Linked DNA regions of Homo sapiens. The protein of the gene in region 1 purifies or fractionates together with the protein of each later gene. This does not show direct contact. Each region holds a gene or a part of one and is shown on either strand. Other genes may lie near its edges. The genes, in order: MAK and KATNIP.

Region 1 (10,890 bases):
CGAGAGGATTGCTTGAGCCGAGATCGAGCCACTACGCTCTGGCCTGGACAACAGAGCAAGACCTATCTTAAAAACAAAAACACTTCTCACACGTTAATTAGGTGACTTCACTCTGGCCCTCAACCTCCTCCTCTATTGCACAATAGTGATAACAGTACCTCCTTCAGGTTGTTGTGCAAATGAATGGAGATAATCATAGTGTGGTAATACCTAGCCCAGTGCCTGAACACCCACTGGAGTCACAAATAAAAATAAATGTTAAATGGGTGGTTATTTTTAATTATCTCATACACTGTGTGAACTTTCTTGCCAAAGCATTTTAAAAGCAGGGTCCCTACGCCCCATTTACTTCTTAGACAATAAATATGGTTTACTTTTTTCCTAAGATGATGTTTTGAATTATAAAAGAGGGGGTTCATTTATATTTTGTTTATAAATCAAATAAAGCTATGTTTAAACGTAATGATTTACTGTATTTTTTTTTCTCCGTATATCATCAAGGCTTTTTTCATAGGGACATGAAACCAGAAAACTTGCTTTGTATGGGTCCAGAGCTTGTGAAAATTGCTGATTTTGGACTTGCAAGAGAATTAAGGTCACAGCCACCATACACTGATTATGTATCTACCAGATGGTGAGTAGGGGTTATGCAGCCCTCCTGAGGCATAAGCCTATGGTGAAATTTTCCTACGATGGATTGTTACATATTTCTGGAAGTTCCATATTGAATATTTAAAACACAGAATTGAATTTTATATTCTTTAAAGAAAGCGAAGGATTGGTTTATTGCTATTCTGATCACTGAAAAAAAAAGGAAAAAGAATTTCATTTATTCACTCATTCATTCATTCAACAAATATTTATTGAACACCTACTATGTGCCAAACATCATTTTAGGCACAGAGAACACAGCAGTGAAATAAAAAAAGAAAAGAAAAATCTCTGCCTTATGCTGCTTACATGACAGCCAATAGACAGATAAACAAGTTAAAAATATTATGGATCACCAACAGAAAGACATACACGTGTTCACCAGAAGACATGAATCCTCTCTACTGCACGCCACCCAAACGTCCATGAACAGTAGCATCGTATACTCACCCAGTGGAATGCTTTGCAACAATGAGAACGAAGGGTCTATGACTGCATGCAGCAATGTGGACGAATCTTAGACAATGTTGAGATCAAGAGCCCAAAGAGAAAAAGAGCACATACCATATGATTTCATTTATGCAAAGTACAAAAAAAGAGAAAACTAATCTGTGCCATGAAAGTCAGGATAGCAAGCAGTTCTATGGGGTGGGGATGTGTGTAGTGCCTGGACTAGTGCACAAGGGGCCTTCTGGGTGCTGATAGCATGTCTTTCTTTTTTTTTTGAGATGGAGTTTCGCTCTCTCGCCCAGGCTGGAGTGCAATGGCGTGATCTCGGCTCACTGCAACCTCTGCCTCCCGGTTTCAAGTGATTCTCCTGCCTCAGCCTCCCGAGTAGCTGGGATTACAGGCACCCATCACCATGCCCAGCTAATTTTTGTATTTTTAGTAGAGACGTGGTTTCACCGTGTTAGCCAGGCTGGTCTCAAATTCCTGACCTCCGGTGATCCTCCCACCTTGGCCTCCTATGCATAGTGCTGGGATTACAGGCGTGAGCCACCGGGCCCGGCCGATAACATGTCTTTCTTGATCTGGGTGCTGGGTCTGTGGATGTGTTGTATTTGTGAAAATTCATCAAGCTCTACTCTTACAACACATGCCTCTGCCTGTGTGAATATTATACTCCAGTGAAAACAAGAACATATGTGTATCAGGCTGGGCATGGTGGCTCACGCCTGTAATCCCAGCACTTTGGGAGGCCGAGGTGGGGGATCACTTGAGACCAGGAGTTCGAGACCAGCCTGGCCAACATGGCTAAACCCCGTTTCTACTAAAAATACAAAATTAGCCGGGTGTGGTGTCACGCGCCTTGGTGCCAGTTACTTGGGAGGCTGAGGCATGAGAATCACTTGAACCTTGGGGGCAGAGGTTGCAGTGAGCCGAGATTGCGCCACTGAACTCCAGCCTGGGCAACAGAGCAAGACTCTTTCTCAAAAAAAAAAAAAAAAAAAAAAAAGGAATATATGTGTATCAGATGTTGATACATTATTATAAAGAAAAATAAAATAGGAAAGGGGGCAGGGAGTTGGGGGAGATGGGGAGAGAAAGGAATGTTACATGGAGGGTCTGACTGAGAGTAGCCCTGATGGAGATGCCAGGGCCAGCAGGATTTTTTTTAGGCAGAGTAAAAGCCTTGAGACAGGTGCACGCCACACGTGAATTCTGCACAGTGCAGAATGAATAAGGAGGGCAGTCGTAGGAAACAAGGGCAGAGTTTGTAGAGTGGCCAGAAATGATAGTGACTTGGACCTGCTGGCCATGCAGGTAGTGAGAAATGTGGGATTCTAATGAATCAGATGTGGGGGCTGAAAGAAAGGAGTCCGTGTCTTAGTGTGTTTTTTTGTGTTGCTGTAAAGGAACACCTGCGGCTGGGAAGTTGGTAAAGAAAGGAGGTTTATTTGGCTTCCAGTTCTGCAGGCTGTACAAGAAGCATGGCACTGGCATCCGCTTGGCTTCTGATGTGGGTTTTTATGCTGCATCAAAACATGGTGGAGAAGGTCAGGCCGGGCGTGGTGGCTCACACCTGAATCCCAGCACTGTGGGAGGCCAGGACGGGTGGATCACCTGAGGTCAGGAGTTCGAGACCAGCCTGGCCAACGTGGTGAAACCCAGTCTCTACTAAAAATACAAAAATTAGGCCGGGCACAGTGGCTCACGCCTGTAATCCCAGCACTTTGGGAATCCGAGGCAGGTGGATCACGAGGTCAGGAAATCAAGACCATTTTGGCTAACACAGTGAAACCCCGTCTCTACTAAATATACAAAAAAAAAAAAAAAAAAAAAAAAATTAGACGGGTGTGGTGGCGGGCACCTGTAGTCCCAGCTAGTCCCAGCTACTTGGGAGGCTGAGGCAGGAGAATGGCGTTAACCTGGGAGGCGGAGCTTGCAGTGAGCGAAGATCGCGCCACTGCACTCCAGCCTGGGTGACAGAGCAAGACTCTGTCTCAAAAACAAAAAAAATTAGCCAGGCATGGTGGCACATACTTGTAACTTGGGAGGCTGAGGCAGGAGAATCACTTGAACCCGGGAGGTGGAGGTTGCAGTGACCCGAGATCGCGCCATTGCACTCCAGCCTGGGCAACAAGAGCAAAACTCCGTCTCAAAAAAAAAAAAAAGAAAAGATGGCGGGGTGAAGGTCAAAGGGGAAATGGGCACGTGCGAGAAGGGAACAAACAAGAGGAGGAAGCTTGCCGTGGAGCAACCCACTCTCTCAGGAACTAATTTCATCTTGCCTGAAAAAGAACTCATTCACTACGTGAGAACAGCACCAGGCCTTTCATGAGGGATCCGCCCTGGTTACCTGCGAATGTGACCTTATTTTGAAATAGGGTCTTTGCAAATGTAATCAGATTAAGATGAGGTCAGACCACAGCCTGGCTGGTCTTAATCCAGTAAGACTGATGTCCTTATAAAAAGAAGGCAGACAGAGAGATGGAAGAGGGAAGACACGTGAAGGCACCTTGGGAGAAAGCAGTGTGATGTACACTTTAAATGGATCAACTGTATATTATGTGAATTATATATCAATAAAGCTTGTAAAAATATTCGTCAAAGTATAGTAAGTTCTCACTTAACATCATCAGTAGGTTCTTGGAAAGTTTCACTTTAAGTGAAACAACATATGATGAAACCAATTCGACCATAGGCTAATTAAAGTAAACAATTTTATGGCACGTTTCTGGTCACAAAAACATCACCAAACTTCTTTTTTTTTTTTTTTTCCTGTCACCCAGGCTGTAGTGCAGTGGCACGATCTCGGCTCACTGCAACCTCTGCCTCCCGGATTCAAGTGATTCTCCTGCCTCAGCCTCTCGAGTAGCTGAGCTTACAGACGCCCACCACTACACCCAGCTAAGTTTTTGTATTTTTAGTAGAGACGGGGTTTCACCATGTTGGCCAGGCCGGTCTCGAACTCCTGACCTCATGATTCACCCGCCTTGGTCTCCCAAAGTGCTGCAATTACAGGTGTGAGCCACTGTGCCTGGCCACCAAACTTCTAAATAGTGACCAAAACACTAATATTGAACATTGAAATACATGTAAGCTATACATACATTTGAGAAACATTAATAAAAACAAGGAAGATAATTATTCGCCAAGTTATTCTAGTTCAGGGTCACAGGTGGCAACAGCGTGTCCTGGAAGCTGGGGGTGCAAGGTGAGCACCAACCATGGACGGGACAGCCTCCCATGGCAGCACGCCCCCTCCCCACCCCCCCCCCGACACACACATGCACACACTCATCCTGGGGCCACACAGGCACCCCAGTTCACCTGACATGCACATATCTAGGATATGGGAGGAAGCTGGAGTCCTGGAGAAAACTTGTAGACTTGGGGAGAATGTGCAAACCCCACACATTGGCCCAGCCAGAAATGCCTTTCTTTTTTTTTCTTTCTCATCAACATTACAATGAAACAACATTGAGCAAAAACAACAGTGAACAAAACTAGTTTATTTGAGGGCTTGCAGTATTCTCAATGAAAGCAAAAAGACAGTATGCCAAACATTTGGACTGAAATATTTACACATTTTGGTTGGAAAAAAAGAGAATTGAGAGTGTCTTCCATTTAGCAGACTTTGTGTTGGACTCACCAGCTCACTTTGCTCTTGTAAATTGAGTATTTTTCTCAATTAAAAATATTGTTAGGCTGGGTGCAGTGGCTCATGCCTGTAATCTCAGCACTTCGGGAGGCTAAGGCAGGCTGATCACCTGAGGTCAGGAGTTCGAGACCAGCCTGGCCAACATGGGGAAACCCCGTCTCTACTAAAAATACAAAAATTAGCTGGGCATGGTGGTGTGCCCCTGTAATCCCCGCTGCTCGGGAGGCTGAGGCAGGATAATCACTTGAACCCAAGAGGCGGAGGTTGCAGTGAGCCGGGACCGCGCCATTGCACTCCAGCCTGGGCAACAAGAGCAAAACTCCACTCAATAAATATAGTTGACTACAGAAGAGGAGTCAGTTGAGGATATCAGTACTTTCAAACTGATAAAAAAAAACTCCACTACTCAGGATATAATCCTGTTCATCTTTTGTTTTCTGTGCTTCCTTGTGAATAGATGCTGAATATAATGCTTTGTAACATAGTTTTTCTACTTTTTTTCTTAATATATCAGATGGCACTTATTTCCATATCTATTCAGTTGAGTTCCTGTCTTAGGCTTGATGGACATTTCATAGACATTTGTCTCCAGCCCCACTCATTGTCTGTGATCAGGGAACATGTGTTGTGTCCTATTATCCCCAGAACATTGTACAAATGCCTGACACACAGATGGAACAGGGTCTGAATACCTGTTCCTTGATGGAAATGCATGACCACACAGCGTAGAATGCTACTGCCCATCCACCTTTGAAATTGCAATCAAAATTACCTCTTTTGTTCTCTATTTTCATAGGTATCGTGCCCCTGAAGTTTTACTGAGATCTTCAGTTTATAGTTCTCCCATTGATGTGTGGGCTGTTGGAAGTATCATGGCTGAACTCTATATGTTAAGGCCACTTTTCCCAGGGACAAGTGAGGTCGATGAAATCTTTAAAATTTGCCAAGTTTTAGGGACTCCCAAAAAAGTAAGTACTCTTGTCCCTAAGTTGCTATAACTTTTGATTATTTCTATCTTGCTACTTTGCTTTTAATTTTATAATTTTGATTATTTACAACTTTTGCCTAGATATCTGATATTTTCATTTTGAAATAGGCTCATACTTTAATGATTAATTTTCTTATAATTCTTTTTTTTTTTTTGAGATGGAGTCTTGCTCTGTTGCCCAGGTTGGAGTGCAGTGGCTCAATCTCAGCTCACTGCAACCTCCACCTCCCAGGTTTAAGCAATTCTCATGCCTCAGCCTCCCAAGTAGCTGGGATTACAGGTGTGCACCACCACGCCTGGTCAATTTTTCTATTGTTAGTAGAGAGGAGATTTCACCATGTTGGCCAGGCTGGTCTTGAACTCTTGAGCTCAAGCGATCTGCGATCTGCCCACCTCAGCCTCCCAAAGTGCTGGGATTACTTGGTGTGAGCCACCACGCCCGGCTGTAATCCTTATTTTTTTAATCGGAGTGGGTTAAGGATTGCAAGAAGCCAGAATCCCACCAGCTGAAGAAAAACAGGTGCTTGCCTTTCCTTAAGAACTTCAGGAAAAATTCTGTGTGTTTAGAGTGTAACTTGGGGGTGATGCCCAGCTGACACTGTACAGACAGCCTTGCTTGAGCTCTTTCCTGCTCATTCTGTGGCTGGCCATTGGCATCACCTGTTAACCCCTGGTGTCTTGAACCTTGTTTTTTCTTAACCGTTTCTTGTTTCCTTTTTTATATCTCCCCTGTGGATATTTGACTTCTTGAACTGAGTGCTTTTCAATTAACTATATTTCATCTACACCTTTCTTTCTGAAATGTGCTTTATAAGTGTGTATATAATGACATCCTAATTAAATTAGTAAGTGCCTTGTAGTTAACATTACACAAGTAAATGTAGATATTAAAGCTTTAATGTAATTGTCATTTCCCAGATATGTGCATTTTTAACATTGTATGCAATGGGTAATATACACGACAAGGATCTTTGTTCACAGTCAGCCTCTTTGTAAAGCACTTTTCCTTATTTGTTCAGAGTTAACCCAGGTATCATCACAGCAACATCACCATCAGGATCTAAAACCAGACAAGAGCTTAATATTGCAAAATTTATAAAGGCGGGCATGGTGGCTCATGCCTGTAGTCCCAGCACTTTGGGAAGCCCAGGCAGGAGGATCACTTGAGCCCAGGAGTTCAAGACCAGCCTGGGCAACATAGTGAAACCCCGTCTCCACAAAAAAAAATTAGCCAGGTGTGATGGTGCGCACCTGTAGTCCCAGCTACTCAGGAGTCTGAGGTAGGAGGATCTTTTGAGCCCGGGAGGGTGAGGCTGTAGTGAGCCATGATTGCTCCACTGCACTCCAACCTGGATAACAGAGCCAGATCCTGTCTCAAAAAAAACACAAAAAAACAAACAAAAAAAAGCTATAAAAGTGCTTTTCGCATTGTTTCCTAACTCTCAGCTTAATGTTCTTTCTATACTGTCGTAGCACTAAATTATAGACGTGGTCTGGTATTTCATTTTCATGTTTATATGGATCAACATGAAAATGTTCAAACATAAATGATGTTTATATTACTGCTGTGTTTTTTAAATGGATTACTAAAAACAATTTGTTTTGCCCTCCCCACCTGCACTTATATATTCCTGAAACAGAGTGACTGGCCAGAAGGATACCAGCTGGCATCCTCTATGAACTTCCGTTTTCCCCAGTGTGTTCCTATAAACTTAAAAACTCTTATTCCCAATGCCAGTAATGAAGCTATTCAGCTCATGACCGAAATGTTGAATTGGGATCCAAAGAAACGACCGACAGCAAGCCAGGTAAGAGGAGTCTTCCTGTTAGACCTTTAAAAATGTTTAGGTTTTGTAATATCAGGGATGTTTTCATTTACAAAGGCAGGTCTATTCTCAACCAGGATTTTACTAAGAGAATTAAACACAAAGTCCTAGGCATCCAGCGTATGTAATAAATTAATTTCTAGGCATATAATATCATTGGGAGAAATGCAGAAATAGCCACACCAATGATTTTCTGAGTTTTGTGGTTCAAATGAAGAACCCTGAGGTTGCAACAAGGAATCAATCTGCAATGATAAAAATTCAGACCTGCGACAGACTAGTTATGAAGGAATCTGTCATGGAAGCAAAAAGGCATCTCATGAATCATTCCACATAGTAGACTTTCCTATGCTGCCTTTACAGTTTAGGGGTGGGATTCTGGTTCACTTTATACAACAGTATCATCCCTTGCTGGGACTGGAGTGTGCAGCCTCTGGCTGCCACAAGAGGGCAGCATTGTGGCACCCAGGCTTTGTTCCTTTGTGACTACACCTGACATATCTACAGATGTATTCCAAGTCTAGGGCCTTTAAACCCAGTGTTTTTGTCTGCAAGGCTTCAATAAAAAGGCAATAATAAACTTTATTGTATTCTCATCATTTAAATATAAATTCCATGTGAAAATTACAAAAATTTATTTTGCTTTTTTTAAAATTAATCTTGAGAAAATGTTTTCTAAATGTCATCTGGAAGAACAAATGGGAAAGGATAGTCAAGATATGTTAAAACAAGAATAAGGAATTAGAGAGCGGTGATAGGGATGGACAGCTTGCCCCATCAGATATTAAAGTAATCTTTAAATTGATGATGGTAACAGTGGAAGTACTGGCATAAGAATTGACAAATAGCTGAATGTTGCAGAACATATGAGTCAGCACAAGGTAAACAAACGTGGCATCACAAAGAGGGGAGGACGGCTCAGTGGGTGATACTGGGAAAATTCATTAGCTCTTAGGGAAAAAAATAAATTGAGGTCCTTACTGCTCACCATACTTTACAACTCACAGAAGGGTTACATTTTGTTGTTGTTGTTGAGATGGAGTTTCACTCTTGTTGCCCAGGCTGGAGTGCAATGGCATGATCTCGGCTCACCGCAACCTCTGCCTCCTGGGTTCAAGTGATTCTCCCACCCTCAGCCTCCCGAGTAGCTGAGATTACAGGCATGAGCCACCACGCCTGGCTAATTTTGTATTTTTAGTAGAGACAGGGTTTCTCCATGTTGGTGAGGCTGGTCTCGACCTCCCAACCTCAGGTGATCTGCCCTCCTTGGCCTCCCAAAGTGCTGGGATTACAGGTGTGAGCCACCGCGCCCGACCAGGATTACATTTTCAAAGTGTAAAAAAAAAAGCACCCTAAACTGTTAGAAACAAAAGGAAAGCATACATGTGTATTTGATCTCAAGGTGAAAAAACACGGGTATAAAAATAATAGAAGAAACCACAAAAGGAAGATTCAAACAATTTGATTACATAAAAAGTAAAATTTTTCTCTATGTAAAAATCTTAAAATGGAAAGATAAGACAGAGAAAATTATTTTTAATTCTTAATATAATACTCCTACAGAAACACAAGAAAAATACTGAAATGTGTATGTGTATTTTCTTTTTTTTTTGAGATGGAGTTTCTGTTGCCCAGGCTGGAGTGTAGTGGCATGATCTCCACTCACTGCAACCTCCGCCTCCTGGGTTCAGGCGATTCTCCTGCCTCAGCCTCCCGAGTTGCTGGGATTGCAGGTGCCCGCCACCACGCTTGGCTTATTTTTGTATTTTTGTAGAGACCAGAGGGGTTTTTTTGTTTAGTTTTTTTTTGTTTTTGTTTTTGTTTTTGAAACGGAGTCTCGCTCCATCGCCCAGGCTGGAGTGCAGTAGCGTGATCTCGGTTCACTACACCCTCCGCCTCCCAGATACAAGCAATTCTTCTGTCTCAGCCTCCCTAGTAGCTGGGACTACAGGTGCCTGCCACCACACCTGGCTAATTTTTGTATTTTTAGTAGAGATGGGGTTTCACCTTGTTGGTCAGGCTGATCTTGAACTCCTGACCTTAGGTGATCCACCCACCTCGGCCTCCCTAAGTTCTGGGATTACAGGAATGTGCCACTGTGCCTGGCCAGAGACGGAGTTTTACCATGTTGGCCAGGCTGCTGTTGATCTCCTGACCTCAGGTGATCTGCCTGCCTTGGCCTCCCAAAGTGCTGGGATTACAGGCATGAACCACTGTGCCCAGCCGTTTAAGTGTATTTTCTAATTTTTCTTTTTTAAAATTTTTTGAAAGTTTTGTTTCTTTAAAGATGGGGTCTTACTATGTTGTCCTGACTGGTCTCAAACCCCTGGTCTCGTGCAGTTCTCCTGCCTTGGCCTCCCAAAGTGCTGAAATAATATAGGCGTGAGCCACCACACCTGGCCCATATTTTCTAATTTTTCTAAACATTCATTACCTTCATAATAAAGACATAATAAGTTTTTCAAATGTATTTTAAAAAGAAAAGTAGTAATGGGACATGAAAAAGAAACACAGGAAAAGAAATACAGATTACAAAAAATATTTTTTAAATGTTCAGTCTTTGTTTACTATTATAAAATGCAAGTAGAAATGAGATACCGTTTTTCATTTATCTCTCTTAGTAAGAGAAAGTAATTTTGTAGTATATAAAAAGAGCCTTGAAGACAATCAGAAATTATGCTCAAAGATGTTCAATTCCAATAGAAAACTGTACATTGAAAGTTAATCAAAATGTTTCCAACCATGTGCGGTGGCTCTGCAGTGCCGCACACCTGTAATCCCAGCACTTTCCGAGGCAGGCGGATCACTTGAGGTCAGGAGTTTGAGATCAGCCTGGCCAACGTGGCAGAACCCCATCTCTACTAAAAATACAAAAAATTAGCTAGGCATGGTGACACACACCTGTAATCTCAGCTACTCGGGAGGCTGAGGCAGAAGGATAGCTTGAACCCAGGAGGCGGAGGTTGCAATGAGCCAAGATCGTGCCACTGCACTCCAGCCTGGGTGACAGAGTGAGACTCTGTCTCAAAAATAAATAAATAAATAAATAAATAAATAAATAAATAAATAAATAATGTTTCTAAACTTAGGTTATGTGCATCTTTAATTTGGAATATACTGCCAGCATTAACAGTGAATTTGTAAAATAAAATTTTTAAATAATTTGGGAGAAATCTCATGCTAAAATACTATTATACAAATAATATGATTTTGTTTTTGAAAAATATATTTTATATGATGAGAAAAAAATACCGAAAAGTATAAAAAATGTTAGTCTTGGTTGTCTCTGGGTGTTAAATTTTTATTTTTGTCTTGAGAAC
Region 2 (10,890 bases), on another chromosome or scaffold:
TTCCTTCCAACTCTAACTTTTGTGACATTAGAGAGTTCATGAAATGTTTCTAAATAGTTTGGGACTCGTTACAGGGAAAACACACACACACATACACACACACCACACACTGCATTGCAGGTTCACTTAGAGTTTAGAAAAATGTGGTGGGCCCTGCAGGTAACCAGATATCTGTAGCGCTCTGACTTCCTGCCAGGCGCTACGTTTACCCATAACTTTCCTCTCCCCAAAGGACATGTTAAATCAGAGGGTCCACTGCTAAGGGTGGTCAAGGTAGCAGTGGGCTCTGAAGTGAAGTGGGAGCTGGGAGAGAAAGTGACTTCACTAGGAAACGAAATTGGGCCAGGACAGGAATGCTAATGGGAGAGCAGAGGAAGCAGCTGCGGGGAACAGGAAAGGAAGCTAGGAGCGGGAATAGTATGAGGACTGGGTTGTCTGGGGAAACCATATGTGTCCACTAGAGAAAAAGGACCAGGCCAGGCAAAGTGGCCCACGCCTGTAATCCCAACACTTTGGGAGGCCGATGCAGGTGGATTATCTAAGATCAGGAGTTCAAGACCGGCCTGACCAATATGGTGAAACCCCGTCCCTACTGAAAAAAAAAAAAAAATACAAAAATTAGACAGGCATGGTGGTGGGCGCCTGTAGTCCCAGCTACTTGGGAGGCTAAGACAGGAGAATTGTTTGAACCCAGGAGGCGGAGGTTGCAGTGAGCCAAGATCACACCACTGCACTCCAGCCTGGGTGACACAGCGAGACTCTGTCTTGAAAAAAAAGAAAAAAAAAAGACAAAAAGGATGCAGCCACGGTCCCTGGAAGCTTGGCCTGGAAGCTTGGCTACAAGGCCCTTTCCTTTGTCTACTTTATGGAGAATGTCCAGCAATTCACTAGGGAACAAATCCGTTAATCTCTTTCCTGGTTACAGTGTCAACCCAGCAAACACTCATGGGATCTGCCTGTGCCAGTCCTTGTGCCAGGTGCTGGGCATACAAAGGAAAGAAGTGAGTCTCTACCCTCAAAGAGGGAGAAAAGCATAGAGCTCGTCCCTGTGATACAACACAATGCCTGACTAGCTATGGGGTCCTGCCATGGGGGAGTAGCTAATTCTGCAGGTGGTGCTGGTCACTGCAATTTACAGTGTGGAAGTGACTTGAAAGAAGGGCACAGCTGGCAGGGAACACAGCACAGGCAAGGCAGCGAGGTGCGAAAGAAGACGGTGTACTCCAGAGATGGCCAACCTCCCCAAGTGTCTCGGGCTGGCATTGAAATCTCAGATGCCTGCAAAGGAGGCCAATATGATCAATGGAAGAAGTGAGCACCAGATGACAGGTAACACCAGCCAGAAGGGGTCATCAGCACATGTCCCAGGTCAAGGGGGTGGCCACTGTTCAGTGCTAGAGGACCAGAGCTACGTGACAAGAAAGTGCTGAGGGCCCAAAGCACCCTGTTTATCAAGAGACTGAGAAGTCCAGGTTCTTATGTGAAATTACCTTTTTTTTTTTTTTTTTTTTTTCTGAGACAGAGTCTCACTCTATAGCCCAGGCTGGACTGCAGTGGCGCGATCTCAGCTCACTGCAACCTCTGCCTCCCAGGTTCAAGCGATTCTCCTGCCTCAGCCTCCTGAATAGCTGGGATTACAGGCACCCGCCACCACGCCCGGCTAATTTTTGTATTTTTAGTGGAGACGGGGTTTCACCATGTTGGCCAGGCTAGTCTTGAACTCCTGACCTCGTGATCTGCCCGCCTCAGTCTCCCAAAGTGTTGGGATTGCAGGCGTGAGCCACCACACCTGGATTTTTTATTTATTTATTTTTTTTATACAGAGTCTCGCTCTGTCGCCCAGGCTGGTGTGCAGTGGCGCGATCTAGGCTCACTGCAACCTTTGCCTCCTGGATTCAAATGATTCTCCCACCTCAGTCTCCCAGGAAGCTGGGATTATAGGCAGGTGCCACCATGCCTGGCTAATTTCTGTATTTTTACTAGAGACGGGGTTTCACCATGTTGGCCAGGCTGTTCTCAAACTTCTGACCTCAAGTGATCCGCCTGCCTCGGCCTCCCAAAGTGCTGAGATTATAGGTATGAGCCACCATGACCTTACTATTTTTTTTTTTTTTTTGAGACAGGGTCTTGCTCTGTTGCCCAGGCTAGAGTGCAGTGGCATGATCACAGCTCACTGTAGTCTCAACCTCCTGGGCTAAGGTGATCCCACCTCAGCCTCCCGAGTAGCTGAAACCACAGGCATGTGTCAACATGCCCAAATAATTTTTAACAATTTTTTGTAGAGGTGGGGTCTCACCGTGTTGCCCAGGCTGATCTCAAACTCCTGGGCTCAACTGATCCTCCTGCCTCAGCCTCCCAAAGTGCTAGGACTACAGGCATGAGCCACCATGCCTGGCCTGAAATCACTATTTTTGAATATGGAAAAACATATTGATAGACACTGTACAGCGCAGTGTAAAACCTCTGGGTGTGAGAGCAGGTAGGCAAGTGTCTAAAAAGATGAGACTGGAGGGGAGCTAATTCCCCAGAGAAATTCTATACTTCAAGGTGATATGATCCATAGGGCAATTGTTAAAGCTGCAAAGCCCCATGGGACATCAGTAGTCACACTTTCTTACTTTTACATAAAGTGCTCTGCAAACAGTTTCAAGTTCTTCCTTGCAACCAACCACATTGCTCTGCATTAGCCTACTCCCATTTGGAAAGAGAGAAGCAGTCATGGGACCAGATGCTGAGGGAGCTGGGAATGTAGTCAAAACGGGTACCTTTCAAAATGTATATTATTCCATCAGCCCAGTGGCCAGTTCTTCCCCACAGACTCACTCTCCAGGTGTGAGAACCTGGCCACACACTGGCAGTAACAAGGCTGAAATGGGCCTTCCATAACATACTACCAAGTGTAGACCTTATTCGACTGAGTCCTGGCTCTGCTACCTACTAGGTGTGTGGTATAAAACAGACACAATCACAGTATCCCATTGAGCTGTCTCAGGAATCAAATCAGATCTGCCACGGCAACAGTCAGCAAACGTTTCCTGTACAGGCCCAGATAGTAAATATTTTTGGCCCGTGGGCCACATAAGTCTCTTTTACAACTACTCAACTCTGCAAGAAAACAGCCATGGACTATATGTATGTGAAAGGGTGCTGCTGCATTCCAATAAAACTTTATTTACAATAGCAGGCAGTGGGCCACACTGCTTTGGGAAAGGGGAAGACCTCTACAAATATTATCTTCTAAGGACTCCCATGTTGAAATGTAGTCATCTGTTTATGTCTGCTTTCTCACCATACTATGAAGTTTCTAAAGGCAGATAATATATTCCCTTTTTTTCAGATTAAAACAAAAAGAAACTGGGCATGGTGACTCATGCCTGTAATCCCAGCATTTTGGGAGGCCAAGGCAGGCAGATCACTTGAGGTCAGGAGTTCGAAACCAGCCTGGCCAACATATGAAACCCCATCCCTACTAAAAATACAAAAATTAGCCAGGTGTGGTGGCACACACCTGTAATCCCAGCTACTTAGGAGGCTGAGGCAGGAGAATCACTGGAACCCAGGAGGCAGAGGCTGTAGTGAGCTGAGATCGCACCACTGCACTCCAGCCTGGGTGAGAGAACAAGACTCTATCTAAAAACAAAAAAACAAACAAAAAGAATAAGTATAGTCCAGTATGGCATACAAGGAAGTCCACAGGAGTTTTCACAACTGTACAAGTTAATACTAAAGTAGAATTCTAAGTACAAATGCTGACAGGCCTAGGAGTGACAGACACAATGAGAGAAGCCAGTCATTAGACAGGCCCACCTCCCTCTTAAAGGGCAAAGTCTCCACTTAACTCGGGTGGTGGGACAATTGTTGCCATGCAGAATTCTGATTTGGTGTTAACAGACTTTATTGATATTTTCAAGAAAATACCACAATCAGGTATTTATAAGAAATCTGCTCATTTTTCAATGTTGACAACTAATTCAAAAATTTAAAAAACAAAACATTATGAGCCAAATAAACATGCATGTGGGCTGTTTCAGCCCACTTGTGCAAGCTCTGATATAAAGAATTCATTTCCAGCCAGGCATAGTGGCTCATGCCTGTAATCTTAGCAACTTGGGAGGCCAAGGTGGGAGGATCACTTGAGCTCAGGAGATGGAGACCAGCCTGGACAACATAGCAAGACCCCCATCTCCACAAAAAATAAAAAATTAGCTGGGCATGGTGGCACACACCTGTAGTCCCAGCTACTTGGACAGCTGACATGGGACGATCGCTTGAGCCAGGAGATGGACGCACCAGTGAGTTATCTCACCATTGCACTCCAGCCTGGGCAACAGAGCAAGACTCTGTCTCAAAAAAAAAAAAAAAAAAATCCACACCTGTAACCGTAGCACTTTAGGAGGCCAAGGGGTAGGGTTGGATCACCTAAGGTCAGGAGTTCGAGACCAGCCTGGGCAACATGGTGAAACCCCGTCTGTACTAAAAATGCAAAAATTAGTTGGGCGTGGTGGCATGTGCCTGTAATCCCAGCTACCCAGGAGGCTGAGGCAGCAGAATCACTGGAACTCGGGAGGCGGAGGATGCAGTAAGCCAAGATCGCGCCACTGTACTCCAGCCTGGGCTACAAAGTGAGACTCCACCTCAAAAAAAAAAAAAAAAATCAACTTCACAGAAAAATGTCAAGAATAGTACAATGAATTCCCATATCGCCTTCACCTGGATTCAATCTTACTCATTTTGGCATCTCTGAATTCCAATGCACGGAAGGCACTGAAATGTTGAATCATGGAATGAATCTCATAAGGAAAAATAAGCAAAACATTATGGGCCGACTTCCTATAAGTTAAAGTGACAGGAGGAACGAACTCTGAAAAAATCTGAGAGAAAAGAAACTAATCAGATAGAAGGATTGGAACAAGAAGAAAACAGAACAGACACAAAGAGTCTATGGGATGTATGTTTATTTCACCTGCTGAATGCTTGCTTTGTTTTATTGCATTTGATTGTTATTTTATTATTTTTTTTGCTGGGTTTAAGTAGTAAGAGAAACAGACAAATCACCAAGAAGCCAGGTAAATACCACACAAGGACAGGAGAGACCAGCTAAACCGATGGTGTACTCTCAGCAAAACCTTCCTAATTCAACCATCACCTGTTTGCAGTCTGGGATTATTTGGACAAGTGAGGCTAAATATCATCTTGGCATTATTAATTATTTGAGAAAGTTTGCTAAGCAAATGAACAGTATAAACAAGGGAAATGTTGAATATTTGCTCTAGGGGAGCAGTGAAAAGCAAATGAACAACTTCCAAATCCTTTCTAATTATATCAATGTGCTGAACTTTTGTCTAATTATTATGTTCCTTGAAAATGAAATAGAATTTTTTTTCCTAAACCATTTCATATTTTTAAAGTACTGGGGAAAATTCAACTTTAACAGAAAGGCGAACATTTTCATAGGCAGAAAACACACACTGCCAATGTACCTTCATGGAATAAAAAATGTCAAACATTGGATTTTCTCTTAAGCAAAGAGTGTGCTAATTACAAAAGTTATCATCTGCTAGAGAGCTTCATCAGCACGCTTCCCTCTTCTGTCAACTGTGTGGAATAAGTCTGCCTATTTGCAGATAATGATAACAACAGCTACTATATAGGAACTTTTTTTTTTTTTTTGAGACAGAGTCTCACTCACTGGCCCAGGCTAGAGTGCGGTGGTGCAATCTCAGCTCACTGCAACCTCCGCCTCCCAGGTTCAAGCAATTCTCTGCCTCAGCCTCCCGAGTATCTGGGATTACAGGCACCCGCCACCACACCTGGCTAATTTTTGTATTTTTAGTAGAGACAGGATTTCACCATCTTGGCCAGGCTGGTCTTGAACTCCTGACCTCGTGATCCACCCATCTCAGCCTCCCAAAGTCAGGCATGAGCCACCGCGCCTGGCTGTAGGAACTTTTTTTTTTTTTGAGACGGAGTTTCGCTCTTGTTGCCCAGGCTGGAGTGCAATGGCGCAATCTCGGCTCACCACAACCTCTGCCTCCCAGATTCAAGCGATTCTCCTGCCTCAGCCCCCCAAGTGGCTGGGATTACAGGCATGCACCATCACACCCAGCTAATTTTGCATTTTTTTAGTAGAGACAGGGTTTCTCCATGTTGGTCAGGCTGGTCTCGAACTTCTGATCTCAGGTGATCTGCCTGCCTCGGCCTTCCAAAGTACTGGGATTACAGGCGTGAGCCACCGCGCCCAGCCAGGAACATTTTTTTATATGCCAGACTTGATGCATTGTTTCATTGAAGCCACAAAACAAGGTAGGCTTCATTATCATGTCCATTTTACTGACAGGAAAACCAAGGCTCAGAGAGGTCAAAGTGTACAGCAGAGATTCAAATCCAGGGCTATCTGGCCCCCAAACCTAAGGACATTACACTGCATCACAGAAACAGATAGGACCTGCCCAAAGTCAAAATCAAAAGGCCAGGGAAAGGGTTGTGAAAAGCTATGGTGATTAAGACATGCCGAATAAACTAAATTACAGTCCAGTTTGGAGGGCATCTGCTAGACATTTAAGCTTTTGTGAACGTAGGAAGTAAACATCTTTCTAATAAGGCCAGGCTTGGCTTACCTAGTTAGTTAGAATCACAATAAGGTATGCTTCACTTTATCCAATAAATAGGTATGTGCCTATAAAATTATGTATAAATCAGGGCCAGGTGCGGTGGCTCATGGCTATAATCCCAGCACTTTGGGAGGCTGAGGCAGGTGGATAACCTGAGGTCAGGAGTTCGAGACCAGCCTGACCAACATGGTGAAACCCCATCTCTACTAACAAAAAACAAAAAAGTTAGCCAGGCGTGGTGGCGTGCACCTGTAATCCCAGCTACTCAGGAGGCTGAGGCAAGAGAATCGCTTGAACCTGGGAGGCAGAGGTTGCAGTGAGCCAAGATCACGCCACTGTACTACAGCCTGGGTGACAGGGCGAGACTCTGTCTCAAAAAAAAAAAAAAAAAAAAAAGTGTAAATCAAAGTTTAAAAAATCAGAACAGAAAATGGGATTCTTTGGAGGTCAAATATGACCCTAGGGTAAACACTTCTGAGAATAAATTTTTCCTTTTGGGGGCCAATCTGAAAATGAACATACCCCTCTACTAGGCTACAATAACGTCCTAAGACTGCAAGTACAGAGATGCTCATTAGAAGGCACAAAGCAGCCTTCCTGAAAATGGACTGTAGCAATGTTTCTCAAAGGTGCAGATCCTGGGAGAAGGAGGGGTCCACAAAGACAAAAGTATTTTAATCATAATTTGAAGAGTATTTCACTGTGTTGAATTTTTTTTCTTTTGAGACAGTCTCACTCTGTTGCCCAGGCTGCAATACAGTGGCATGATCTTGGCTCACTGCAACCTCTGCCTCCTGGGTTCAAGCGATTCTCTTGCCTCAGCCTCCCCCAAGTAGCTGGGACCACAGTTATGTGCCACCATGCCCAGCTAATTTTTGTATTTTTAGTAGAGACAGGGTTTCACCATGTTGGCCAGGCTAGTCTCAAACTCCCGACCTCAGGTGATCGCCCACCTTGGCCTCTCAAAGTGCTGGGATTACAGGCGTGAGCCACCCCATCTGGCTGTGTTGACATTTGTACTTATGACACAAAGCAATGGTGGGTAAAACTGCTTGCAGTCTGAATCAAGGCAATGTTACCACAATGTACTAGAAACCTTCCCTCCTTCCTTCCTCCCTCCCTTCTTCCATCCCTCCCTTCTTTCCTCCTTCCTTTCTCTCTCCTCTCCCTCCCTTCTTTCCTTCCTTCCTTTCTCTCTCCTCTCTCCCCCCACCCCACCCCCTGCTCTCTCTCTCTCTAGACAAGGTCTTTTTGCCCAGGCTGGAGTGCAGTGGCACAGTCATGGCTCACTGTAGCCTCAACCTCCTAAGCTCAACTGATCCTGAGTGGCTGGGACTACAGGCACGAGCCACTATACCTGTCTAATTTTTTACTTTTTACAGAGATGGGGTCTCACTAAGTTGCCCAGGCTGGTCTTGACCTCCTGGGCTCAAGTGATCCCCACACCTCAGTCTCCTTAGCAGCTAGAACCACAGGTGCATGCTACCATGCCTGACTATTATTTATTTATTTATTTATTTTATTTATTTATTTAGTAGAGATGGAGTCTCACTATGTTGACGAAGCTGGTCTTGAATTTCTGGGCTGAAGAGATCCTCTTGTCTTGGCCTCCCAAAGCGGTGGGACTATAGGCGTGAGCCACTGAACCCAACCATCAGGACATTCTTAAATAAAAATAATTGTTTGTTTGTTTTAAATGTGAGTACATGGCAGTAAATAAAATAATAGACAAATTTTGGTTATTCAGTCTTGGGAATTTGGCAGAAATTTTCTCAAATATGAAATAAGTGAGTCTGTCACTTCAAGGAAACAGCTGACAATATTTGCTGCCAATGTTAAAATTCAAGCTGTCAAGTGAAAACAAGTTGAAAACTTGTTTCCATTACCTTGAGTTTGATAGTTTCCTAATACTTAAACTCCTTTTTAAAATGAAATAGGTGGTGATATTAACAAATGTGATTTTTTAAATACCGTATAATGGCATCTGAAAGGTCAACGTTTAGATTTGCATAACTCACTGAACCAACATTTTCTAAACGACCAATGGCTGATGTTATAAAACCATATATGGGTAAAGCAGCCAATGAAAGGGCAAGATAGACCAATGGATTTTAATGTAACACAGTATAAAAGTTCACCTATAAGGCTTCAGATGACACACTGTGACTAACATTTAAGAAACTGCCACTTGTGGCCTGGCATGGTTCTTCATGCCTGTAATCCCAGCACTTTGGGAGGCCAAGGCGGGCGGATCACCTGAGGTTGGCAGTTTGAGACCAGCCTGACCAACATAGAGAAACCCCATCTCTACTAAAAGTACAAAATTAGCTGAGCGTGGTGGCACATGCCTGTAATCCCAGCTACTTGGGAGGCTGAGGCAGGAGAATCGCTTGAACCCGGGAGGCGGAGGTTGCGGTGAGCCGAGATCAGGCCATTGCACTCCAGCCTGGGCAACGACGGCAAAACTCCCGTCTCAAAAAAAAAAAAAAAAAAAAAAAACTGCCACTTGCAGGCCAGGCATGGTGGCTCACGTCTGTAATCCCAGCACTTTGGGAAATGGAGGCAGGCTGATCACCTGAGGTCAGGAGTTTGCGACCAGCTGGCCAACATGGGGAAACCCCATGTCTACTAAAAATAAAAAAAATTAGCTGGGCATGGTGGTTCACACCTGTGATCCCAGCTACTCGGGAGGTTGAGGCAGGAGAATCGCTTGAACCCAGCAGGCAGAGGTTGCAGTGAGCTGAGATCGTGCCACTGCACTCCAGCCTGGGCGACAGTGAGACTTTTTCTCAAAAAAAAAAAAAAAAAGAAAAAAGAAACTGGCATTTGCTAAATTTTGTATAGTATGAAAGGAGAGTGTCTACAGTTATCTGAAAAGGCAATTAAAATGTTTCTCTCTGCTCCAATTATATATTTGTATGAGGCCAAATTTTCTTCATACACACCAGCCAAAACAGCATAACAAAAAACAGTTTGAATCCTGAAGCAGAAATGAGAGTAGTTTTTTCTATTTCTATTGAATAAACTTGAAAAAACATAAAATAATGCTACTCTTCCTATTAATTTTTTGGAGGCAAATGTAATTGTTTTCCATTAAAAATATTATTTATGTTCAGAAGTAATGGGTTTATTGTTGTTGGAGTTTTTTTGAGACAGGGTCTAGCTATGTTGCCCAGGCTGGTCTTGAACTCCTGAGCTCAAGCAATCCACCCACTTCAGCCTCCCAAACTGCTGGGATCACAGGTGTGAGGCACTGCACATGGCCAATTATTATTATGATTATTATGAGCCACTGCACCTGGCCAATTATTATTATTATTATTGGGTTTTTTTGAGACAGAGTCTCGCCCTGTTGCCCAGGCTGGAGTGCAGTGGCAAGATCTCGGCTTCAAATGATTCTCCTGCCTCAGCCTTCCAAGTAGCTGGGATTACAGACATGTGTCACCACGTCCGGCTAAGTTTTAGTAGAGACAAGGTTTCACCATGTTGGCCAGGCTGGTCTCGAACTCCTGACCTCAAGTGATCCACCTGCCTTGGCCTTCCAGAGTGCTAGGATTACAGGCACGAGTCCATGCCCGGCCCAATTTTTATTATTTTTAAAGGAACTAATTAATGGACATCTTAAGATTTTCCCAGTTTAAATCTTCGATATGGTAAATATCATAAATATAAATAAACAAAGCTCTTTGAGGTAAGAGCATACAGGGGTCCCAAGGCTTAAAAGGTTTGAGGACTGATGTTCTATAGCAACATTACATTGACCTTTCCAGAAGGCAAAATGGTAAAGCACATTTTATAGTACCTCTAAAGTACAAAGGGAAAAGATATATTTTAAGCATATGACAGAATGTTCAATTAAAAACATTTTCTCCACACTACATTCAGTGAATATAAAAAGAATGTGGATTCCCCAGGAACAAATTCCCGAGAAGTGAGGGACAGTGCTGTAATTAGAAAAATGATCTGGACTCTAGCCCAGACCCTACCAGTCTCTCTAGACTTTAGTCTTCCCATCTGCAAAGTGAGATATCAGAATAGCCTATTTTCCATTTGCTTCCAATTGTCAATACCATGACTCTAATCAGGGATCCCTAAATGGGGGCCCACAAGCTGTCTCTGGCCTTCAGAGTGACTGGCCAACCCTGTTTTTGAGAAGTACCCCAAGAGGACAATCAGCTGGTGCTTGGTGAGCAGCTTTCCTTTCAGGTGAGGAATTGATTTTCAGTTACAGCCTCAATCCGGCTCACTAGACTCTCCTCTGCAGACATCTGCATTTACA

What was found.
Region 2: the proteins of MAK (region 1) and KATNIP purify together in Homo sapiens (affinity purification with mass spectrometry; 3 studies listed by BioGRID and IntAct, with this or other methods). This does not show direct contact.

What each region holds. Positions count from the first base shown.
Region 1 is NC_000006.12:10,798,554-10,809,443, reverse strand, and holds part of MAK (serine/threonine-protein kinase MAK), read left to right. Parts: intron 1-501; coding exon 502-634; intron 635-5,552; coding exon 5,553-5,724; intron 5,725-7,384; coding exon 7,385-7,552; intron 7,553-10,890. UniProt on the Homo sapiens protein: Essential for the regulation of ciliary length and required for the long-term survival of photoreceptors. Phosphorylates FZR1 in a cell cycle-dependent manner. Plays a role in the transcriptional coactivation of AR.
Region 2 is NC_000016.10:27,550,907-27,561,796, reverse strand, and holds part of KATNIP (katanin-interacting protein), read right to left. Parts: intron 8,184-10,890; exon of another isoform or gene 8,164-8,183; intron 1-8,163. UniProt on the Homo sapiens protein: May influence the stability of microtubules (MT), possibly through interaction with the MT-severing katanin complex.